2 separate regions of the Homo sapiens genome follow, and region 2 is linked to region 1. A link means that fine-mapping ties the variant in region 1 to the expression of a gene that starts in the linked region. Tissue or cell type: tibial nerve. Region 1 holds a variant in brackets; the other region holds the start of a gene. All regions are shown on one strand. Distances are from middle to middle. Region 1 has its middle 72 kb from the start of CRISPLD1. Region 2 holds the start of CRISPLD1 (cysteine rich secretory protein LCCL domain containing 1).

Region 1 (5,385 bases):
TATTACTGCCTCAATTTCAGAATTTGTTATTAGTCTATTCAGGGATTCAACTTCTCCCTGGTTTATTCTTGCATAGAGGTGTTTACAGTATAGTGTTCTCTGATGGTTGTTTGTATTTCTGTGGGGTCAGTGGTGATAACCCCTTTATCATTTTTTATTGTGTTTATTTGATTCTTTTCTCTTTTCTTCTTTATTAGTTTAGCTATCCATCTATCTATTTTATTTTATTTTATTTTATTTTATTTTATTTATTTTATTTTTTCAAAAAACAAGCTCCCAGATTCATTGATTTTTTTGAGGTCTTTTTTCACCATCTCTATTTCCTTCCATTCCTCTCTGATTTTGGTTATTTCTTGTCTTCTGCTAGCTTTTGGGTTTGCTTGCTCTTGGTTCTCTAGTTCTTTTGGTTGTGGTGTTAGGATGTTGATTTGAGATCTTTCTAGCTTTTTGATGTGGGCATTTGGTGCTATCAATTTTTCTCTTAACACTGCTTTAGCTGCATCCCAGTGATTCTGGTATGTTGCCTCTGTTCTCATTGGTTTCAAAGAACTTCTTGATTTCTACCTTAATTTCATTATTTACCCAGGAGTCATTCAGTAGCAGGTTGTTTCCTTTCTATGTAGTTGTGTGGTTTTGAGCGAGTTCCTTAATTTTGAGTTCTAATTTGATTGTGCTGTGTTCTGAGAGACTGTTATAATTTTGGTTCTTTTGCATTTGCTGAGGAGTATTTTATTTCCAATTATGTGATCGATTTTATAGTAAGTGCCATGTGGCACTGAGAAGAATGTATATTCTGTTGTTTTTAGGTGGCGATTTCTGTAGATGTCTATTATGTCCACTTGATACAGAGCTGAATTCAAGTCCTGAATGTCCTTATTAATTTTCTGTCTGATGATCTGTCTACTATTAAATTTTCCCACTATTATTGTGTGGGAGTCTAAGTGTCTTTGTAGGTCTCTAAGAATTTATTTTATGAATCTTGATGCTCCTTATTGAATGAATATATATTTAGGATAGTTAGCTCTTCCTGTTGAATTGATCCCTATACCATTATTTAATGCCTTTCTTTGTCTTTTTTGATCTTTGCTGGTTCAAAGTCTGTTTTGTCAGAAACTAGGATTGCAACCCCTTTTTTTTTCCTGGTTTCAATTTGCTTGGTAAATTTCCCTCCTTCCCTTTATTCTGAGTCTGTATGTGTCTTTGCATGTGAGATCAGTCTCTTGAATACAGCACACCTATGGGTCTTGACTCTATCCAGCTTGACATTCTATGTCTTTTAACTGTGGCATTTAACCCATTTACATTTAAGGTTAATATTTTTATGTGTGAATTTGATCCTGTCATCATGATGCTAGCTGGTTATTTTTCAGATTTGTTCATGTAGTTGCTTCGTAATGTCATTGGTATTTGCACTTAAGCGGAGGTAGTGGTTTTTCCTTTCCATATTTATTCATATTTATTATTTTCCTTTTTTTTTAAGTCACACATGAGTTTTTATTAAAGTCATATACTTACATTTTTAAAGCAAATATATTGACTAGTTCTTCTGAAAAATTGCTTGAAAAATGTAATTTTTTTTTTTTTTTTTTTTTACTCCACCAAATATTCTAGTTAATTTTTTTTTTCTATATTTCTTTCAGGAGCTCTTGCAAGGCAGGCCTAGTGGTGATGAATTCCCTCAGCATTTGCTTGTCTGAAAAAGATTTTACTTCTCCTTCACTTATGAACCTTAGTTTGTCTGGATATAAAATTCTGGGTTGGAAATTCTTTTCTTTAAGAATGTTGAATATTGGCCCCCACTCTCTTCTGGCTTGTAGGGTTTCTGCTGAGAGGTCCACTGTTAGTCTGATGGGCTTCCCTTTGTAGGTGACCTGGCCTTTCTGGCTGCCCTTAACATTATTTTCTTCATTTTGACCATGGAGAATTTGATGATTATGTGTCTTGGGGTTTATCGTCTCATGGAGTATCTTACTAGGGTTCTCTGGGTTTCCTGAACTTGAATGTTAGCCTGTCTTGTTAGGTTGAGGAAGTTCTCCTGGATTATATATTAAAGTATGTTTTCCAGCTTGGTTTTGTTCTCCCCATCTCTTTCAGGTACCCCAATTAGTCATAGGTTAGGTCTTTTTACTTAATCCCATAGTTCTCAGAGGTTTTGTTCATTCATTTTCATTCTTTTTTCTTTAATCTTGTCTGCCTGTCAGACAAGATTTCAGCAAGATAGTCTTCAAACTCTGAAATTCTTTCCTCTGCTTGGTCTATTCAGTTATTGATACTTATGGTTGCATTGTGAAGTTCTTGTGTTGTGATTTTTGGCTCCATCAGGTCATTTATGTTTCTCTCTAAACTGGTTATTCTGGTTAAGAGCTCCTGTAATGTTTTATCATGGTTCTTAGCTTCTTTGCATTGTGTTAGAACATACTTCTTTAGCTCAGCAAAGTTTTTTATTATCCACCTTCTGAAGCCTACTTCTGTCAATTCATCCATCTCAGCCTCAGCCCAGTTTTGTGCCCTTGCTGGAGAGGTTTTGTGATCATTTGGAGGAGAAGACACACTCTGGGTTTTTGAGTTTTCAGTGTTTTTTTTTCATTGATTCTTTCTCATATTCATGAGTGTGTCTAACTTCTATCTTTGAGGCTGCTGAACTTTGCATGGGCTTTTGTAATTGTAATAGGCCCTGAAGATACCACTGATCTGATTTAATGAAAAGTATAAAAATTATGGAGGTAGAAACTATAGTTATAACCAAAGGCAAAAGTATAGAACACCTAATATCACACCTGTTTTTCAAACTGGACTATTTAACTAACAAAAAAAAAACTTTACACTTTATATGGAAATATAAACATGTGTGACTAGCTAGAAAATTTGTTAGAAACATAAGTAATAAGCTGCATCAAGCGCTAAAATATATCACAAAGCAAATCAATAAAAAATGTTAGTATTGGATGAGTAACAAATCAGTGAATCAGAAAACAGGTCCAATAATTATATCAAATATTTCTGAAAATTTAGCTCAAATGTGGCAACATTTTCAAATTTATTTGGAAAAGTTAGATTATTCAAAAAATACTGTTAGGAAAAATGGGCAGTCACTTGGAAAAATATAGTTGAATTTCTCCTTCCCTCAGTCCT[TCTA/A]CCAAAATAAGTTTTAGATTGGGTTAACATTTGAACATAATCAATACAAACTTTAAAGTACTTTTAAAAAATTGAAGATTTTTTAAAGCATGCTTGGAGTAAGAATGGTCGTAAATAAGACAAAATTCAGAAATTACCTTTTAAAATATTTGCTAGTTAACAACATACAGATACAAAATTAAAAGTGAGAAGAAAAATGACTGGGAAAAGTGCTTGAAATTAATATGCAAGTATTTATTTTTTAACTAGATAGTGTAGCATAATAGTTAAGAGTTCATACGTGTGTTTGCACACCTTCACAAACACATGCAAAGATATGCGTATGTGTGATTGTAAATGCATACCAAAGAAAGAAAGAAAGAAAGAAAAAGAAAGAAAGAACAGAAAAGAAAACAACCAAATACAAACCACTTAGTAAGAAATAGCATGTGAAAAAATTAAAATGCCAAAGCAGAGATGGCAGTAGCCACATGGTTGTTGGAAGAGAAGCTGGAGTTCAGCCCCAGCCACATGGGTGCCTTTGCTAAGTACCTAAGGCTTTCAGGCCCACAAAGGCTATGCTCTAATAATAAGGCTAAACCCTGGGAATAAGAACAAAAGTAAAATATATAGCCCTAACAAAGCCTGAAAGCCTTAATAGCACCAAAGTCATATATTGGTGCTCAATCTCTTTTCCACAAGAAAATTTAGCCCACCCAGAGGAAGATGACATCATTTAAAATCTCTGTGATTTTTCCTCCAATCCAAACATATAAGGCATAAAAAAGAAAAGAAAAAAATGTGAAAAAAAATCAAGAGATAAAATAAACAATATAGAGAAATCTACAAGTTAATTTAATATTTTAAGTACCAGTTAGTTATCAGTCAGGTTGGCAAAAACTAAAGATAAAGAGAAAATTTTAAGAGCAGCTAAAGAAAATGACAGTTTGTGTCCAAATAGATAATTTTTCCATGGACAGGGGACAGTTGAGGGGAAGATGGTTGGGGGATGAAATTTTCACCTCAGATCATCAGGCATTAGATTCTCACAAGGAGCCACATGAGCAGTTGGATCCCTCACATGAACAGTTCACAATAGGGTTCATGCTTCTATGAAAACTAATGCCACTGCTGATCTCATAAAATGTGGAGCTCAGGAGGTAATGCTTGCTGGCCCGCTGCTCACCTCCTGCTGTGCAGCCCTGTTTCTAACAAGCCACGGACCAGTACTGGTCTCCTACCTTATACTTATTCTAAAAAGCATATTGTCATAGAGAGTTGATGCACCTTAGATTAGGCTGTCTATATATCTAATGAAAAAGATGCTGTCTGTGGGACAGGAAATGATTAAATAAGAAAACAGAGTCTACAGTCATATTTCTAGAGTTCAAATCCTAGCTCCAATATTTATTTTCTGGGTGGATTTGAGGAAGTTACTTAACTCCTCTTACCATCTATAAAATGAACATGACAGTAACAATACTTTTCTCATTGAGTTGTGTGGATTGTGTGAATTTGTGTATGAACTGCCTAGGACAGTGCCTGGCACACAATAAGAACAATATGAAAACAGCTATAATTAGTATTACTTATAATCACATTTGATAGACTTATGAGTATTTCACACAGACACAGTTTTCTGGCAGCTTTTTAGTATCTTAGTGACAATGTATATGTTAAGATAATTTTTACTTTTTAGAAAATAACTTCTTATGAAACAAGCAAATGTTTCTAAATTGATACATTAAGCTATCTGATTAAGTATTTCTTATTAATGAGGTGCACACCATTATATTTAGACTGCTTATACTCTAATCACTGATTTTTGATACTTTTTGAAGTTTGTGAAGATGTACTAAAAACATTGAGGTATCAGGACTCTAACATTTGGTTTTATGTCTTATTCTTGGCTTTATCTCAAGGACATATAAAATATGATTGGAAGTCTAAATAAATTATTTTTTATTAGTCACAGCTCTATGTAATTTTGGCAAAAACAGGGCATCTTCAACTTTTTTGATTCTGCAAACCAAGGGAATGAAAGGCAGATTAGATGAACACTAAAAGATTTTTTTCATACACTTTCAATCTATGAGAAATGTAAATTTATACACTTATTGAAACTCACACACAACATATACAGAGGTTGTCCAGCTATAGTTCTCAAAGTATCTGAAGATTTTAGTTTTGTATTGTCAATTAAAGCCATATCAAAGTTATGAGATGATTTCTAGCACATCTGTTCTGGGTAATACTATCATAATTTTTCCC
Region 2 (5,385 bases), 72 kb after region 1:
GAATGTATGAAAATTAACTGCAATGAAAATGCCATTTCCAATGTTTGTTAAATAAGTTTTGCCATCACCAATAACTATTTATTATCAGGCTTTGCTAGTGCATTCCTCATTCATGGAAGGAATATAATAGATTTTTGAAAAGTTTTCTAAATGTTTAGGGTATGAAATGGCAGTATACTCATGAGTTATATGCTAGTAGTCTTAAAGTAATTATGTCCCTTAAAGTTGCAAATTTACTCAGAGTAAATATAAGGTTGTTAAGGATAAGCTGAATATTTTAAATTAATCCTTTGCCAAGGCTTATTTTCATGCTTCAAGTTCACAAATAATAAATCCAAGGGGAGAAAAAAGCCATTGCCAAAGCACTCTTCAACATAAAGCAACCATAAAAATGTATCCTTTACAATGTCATTTACATGTTTATAAGAAACAAAGACCCATTAGGAACAATATATTTCAGCAATCCAGAAAGTTTCTTCCGATTATTAGTCTGAATTTTTCAGATCCACCATTCATAAAAAGGTTCTATCAGGAATTAGGAAGTAAATTTTCAGCTAAGTCAATTAACAGCAAATATACCAGCTGTTTTGCATTTTCACTATATTAACCTTCCTGGTGAGAGTAGAATTTACAGCACTTAGTAGGAACATTGCATCTAAAGGCATTTCGTCCTACTCTGAATGTCAAGAGCTCTTAGAAACAAAAGGAACATTAATAAACGAATATGCAGAGGAAAATACCCTCAAAGAAAATCTTTTTTCAACTTCATATAAAATAAATGATTAAAGAACAGCATGAAGACTGCTGACTGAAAGCATGAATAAACATTTCTTTTGTACATACCACTTGAAAAATGTCCTTACCATATACTCCATATTAGAGGCTGTTGGATACACCTGACTTCGTAATTTATTATGAAGGTCCAAAATACTCTGCATGTCATTGTCTGTGATGGCCCTTTTCCCTCGTTGTTTGGCTATCCACCACTCACCATCCTCATCCATGTATTTTTCCAAAAGTTTCTCCAATAAAGTGGCATTGGGAACCACCATGGCTGGAATTGCTCTAGCCATGAACAGCACTGTGGTTACTCTGAGCCACTCCCGCGCGGTACACTTCATAATGAATGACCTCAGGATTTCCCCAGGAAAATCTCCAAGACAGGCTCTTCCACTCCTTTTGGCTATAACGACATGTCATGTGATTAAGATGAAAATTCCAGCAGATATGAATTTTCTAATAACACGAGCAAAACAACAGTTACAAAGGAAGTGTGCCAGTTTGATTTGTCTATTTAACAGCAGAAAATGGACACTCACATTTTGAAATAACTTATCTCCAACCCATTTTTTTTCTTCCAGAGGACTTTTCACAATGCAATTTCCACAAACTAGACAACTGTATTATCCAAGATAATACCCCTGAGGCCAAAAGTAAATGGCAAAAGTAGCCTAGAAGAGTCAAAGCTTGAAAATACTATGTGAATTGCAAGACTTTAAGTGGCTATACATTACATATACCCTGCAAAGGATGTTATATCTACCTAGAACGTTTGATTTCAATCTAGAGGTTCATGTTTCTCTATGAAGAGTTTTAAGGTGTGAATATTTTATTTGGTATTATTTTATTCCAGTGGCCCATCTCTGTTTCACACTCAGAATGTCCACAGCATTCTAAAATTGAGAGTGAATGTTTCAAAGAAATACAAAAGGCTATTCATATATGCATCCATGGCTACATCTAGGGGGCCCCGTGAACTACTGCAAATGAATGGTTTGGGTTCCTGGGGTAAGTCTCTTCCTATTCAGGCTCAGGTCAAGAACTCAATCTTTATTTCCTGGAAAGTCTGTGACTAATCTGTGGCCTGCACCCGAAGAAGCCAGCAGCTCCCCGGCAACTTGAGAGCTTTTCCTCTCAAGTGTGAAGGCACACACTGTTCTTTCTCTGAACTCAAATGGAAAGCGCGCGACAGAGAAAGTAGGTGAAACCAACAAAGTCACTTACAAGAACTAGAGCTCCCGCTAATTTCTATCGTCGCTGCTTTCCGGGTAGCCCACCCACCCATCGCGCCCAACCACTCTGTACAGTTGGCTTTTTTTTTTTTTTAAGTACAGTTTAAGAAGGCAAAGGGAGATAGGAAAGGGTGGCAGCTTGACGACTCAGCGATGCATTTTAGAATCGCCCTTACCTCTCCAGTGTGAAGTTTCCTGGGAGAGGTGAGCCAAACCGGACGGCCGGCCTCTGCAGCCGCCCAGAGCCTTCACAAGGGACCGCAGACGGAGAGCCCCGCTCGCGAAGGGCCTGAGCACCGAGCGTCCGGGGGCGACGTGGGTGCTGACTGCAGGAATACGCGAGCCTCCGCCTCTGCGGCTCCCTCAACCTGGAAGAAATGGCAGGCAAAGCGTCCAAAATTAGACCTGCAGTTGGGGTGGGAAGGGAGCTGCTTCGTTAGTCTGCCAGGGTGGGCGCCCCAGCGTTTCTGAGCAGTAGCTGCAGGAGCGAGGGGCGGGGACACGAACGAGGCTCGGCGGCGGAGGCTGGCGGCGACCTCTTGCTCCTGCTCCGTACAGCCAGTACGCGCAGAACCAGGCGCCTAGCGCTTCCGTCGCTCTCTCGCGTTCGCGAGCATTTATTGCGGCCCCAGCGCGGGCACGTGACTTGAGCGCCCCTCCTCGCCCACCCCCACCTCCAACCAGCCGTGGCCAGAGGCCCGCCAGATCCGGGAGAAGCAGCCCGCCCTGCTTCTCCGGAACGCAGCGAAGCCAGGGCGCTCGGCCTTTGTGGGCGTGCTTTGGGCTCCCGAGACCCAAGCCCGGAAGGTCTGGCCCCTGGTGGGAGATGTGTGCAAGGAGGGCCCCAACCCCCCTCAGTCCTCCCAGCTCCCCTGCATTCAAAGATCCTCCTCCCAGTCAGTTCCTTTCTGCTGAGATGCTGAAATGCCTTTAAGGGTCCTTACAGACGAGGGGCTGCCCCATAGAGCATGGAGTGGGTGGGGGATGGGGATAACACCTTCAATCTTGGAGGCACAAAAGGGGAAATAGGGGACGAAATGGAAAAATACTTTTCCTTTTATTTTTCCCAGGGGTCCGCATCCTTGATGAGGACCAGATGGGGAAGATGTTCAATAGAATTTGGGGTCAATATGTGACTCAGAATGGCCTGACAGTTGAGACCCCCTCTTTATTCATAAAATATGAGGCATTGTCTTCTCAAGGTGGCCATAGCACTTTTTTTTCTGATGATGTATACATTTAAGGAGTTGATATAAAGGGTACCATTAATTTATCAGGGATTGTTGACAGGAATTGAAACCCCAGCGCTAGAATAGGTAGTGAAAGGAGAGGCCGTTCCTTTGTTCATGTTGTAATCTGGGGTAAGAAAATTACTAATTTTAAATTCACAACAGCTTACCCTACCAAGTGTGGGGCTGTTTTTTATTTTTATTTTTAATTATTTAATCCATCTATGTTTGCTTCCCTAATGTGGTGAATCATAGTCTCAATTTTCCTTCTTTCTAAATGCTAGAGTATCTAGCATATGATCAAATAAAGTACAATATTATGGTAGTAACTCAAATCATCCCAAGCTGTTGCCTGTCTCTTTCCACCATTCAACTACACCATATCTATCAAACCTAAAAACTCAACTCTAAGCCTCAGCTGGAGGTGAGACCTTGCTTCCTGTCACAAAGAAAAGGGAAGCATCACTTATTAGAAAGGTGCAGAAGGTGAAAAGTTTTGATGCACATAAGACTTTTATAGAAGTGTAATTTTGCAATTTTTTAGCAGTTTTAAGTACAAAAAAGTTCTTAACTTTGTATTTTTCAAATAACTATTCATAATTTCCATGCACAGGGTTGAGAAAACTGGCTTTCCCTCTTAGAAACTGATAGAAAACCTCCAAAGTTTATGGTAAAAGAACTATCATTTGTTACAGCAGATGAAGACTATGTTTTTATACTGCAATGTCCATGTGGCATTGAAAAGTATACTGAATATTGAATAAAGAGCCATGAAAGTAATAATATTACTTGAAACATTTGCAAAGAGAATTCAAATTAGGAAGAAGGGAATTAAAATGATAGGGAAGTGAAGTTAAATGAATTTGTAACTCTTGAATATTTCAGTTATAAACATTCTTACACAATGTATGAATCCAACACCTAAAGGCTCACATTAAAGAAAATAAAAATTGTTTTAGGTCTTTAATTCCAAATCTTTCTCTAAACAAGGAAAAAAATCCTTTGACTCAGCATTTCTTTTGGCTTCCAATTTGGGTACTGCAGGTGATTTAAGCATTCATCATGTTAGCATTTCAATAATACATCTTGTCATTCCTGATTGAGTATATATGTTGGAAATGCCATTTTGAACAGTAAAATCAAACACAATATTCTTGAATACTCAAAGATGATACTGTTCACGTTTTTTATTTGTAGTTGAGAAATCTGTGTGTAGACATAAGAAAATGTCTTCTTCACACAGAATTCACGTAAAAGTGGCACTTTGGTTTGTGGCTAAGGCTGTTACTTGTAAAGCCCTGGTTGTTTTTAGCATTACTACTTTCTTGTGGCAAACACTGGTGGTTGCCTAACCAACAACCAGCCTTCCACCCCTTTCTTCCTTCCAAGCCCATAGCCTCCAATTTACCGGGGATATCCACCCTCTCACATGCTGTCAAACTGGCATCTTCAAGAGGCGAATGTTGATTAGTCAAAGCCAGTCATCACAATCTATCCCTGCCACCAGTGACTGATTTAGCATGGGCATGTCATGCAGCCCTAGCTGTTGAAAGGAAGACTTGGGGGTAAGGAGGAGGGTTGGCAAGGGTTTTCTTCTGTAATAAAAAGAGATGCAAAAAGAGAAAATGTCTCCTTAGGTACCAGTGTGTAAGTCTGTGAAACTGAAAGATGCAGCTCTTACTTTGCAAAGAAGACAGACAAGCCTGAGGGCAGAAACCCATTACCCTGGCCAAACAAAAAGACCAACTGGGCCTGACTCTCCCTGCCATTGACCAATCACTGCAACACCTATCTTCCATTTTTCTTGCTAAAATAAATAATGAATGTTTAAATCACAGTGACTAGGGTATTCAGTTACGTGCACCACAAAGCATTCTAACAAGATACATTTCTACAAAGAGGATACATTTTTCTGTCAATATCATATTTTTTCCATGTGGCTATTATTGTCTGCTTATGTGCATAGTTATCTTTAAATCTATTCTTATGTGTTTTCCTATCCTTGAATTTGCAAAAGTGAGTATATATAGACATTTTGTTCACTGTTATAATTTCATGACTCCATGTCTGTTCTATCACCACTTTTTTGGTAAGTACATCCTCTACTGGGGAGGTGTAAGAATAGAATTCCTGTTGTGTTAGGA

What was found. PIP is the estimated chance that this variant, and not a neighbour inherited with it, causes the effect.
Region 2: CRISPLD1 starts here. The variant in region 1 is the best candidate, but not a certain one, in a credible set for the expression of CRISPLD1 in tibial nerve (GTEx, PIP 0.56).

The regions. Positions count from the first base shown.
Region 1 is chr8:75,053,935-75,059,319 of GRCh38, reverse strand. No RefSeq gene overlaps it. Among named protein-coding and RNA genes, the nearest start is that of CRISPLD1, 72 kb to the right of the region's middle. The variant TCTA/A (reference allele first, on the strand shown) is at 3,133.
Region 2 is chr8:74,981,724-74,987,108 of GRCh38, reverse strand. It overlaps CRISPLD1 (cysteine rich secretory protein LCCL domain containing 1), which reads right to left and starts at 2,604. Exons shown (of 15, transcript NM_031461.6): 1 at 2,189-2,604; 2 at 864-1,183. The coding sequence starts at 1,121.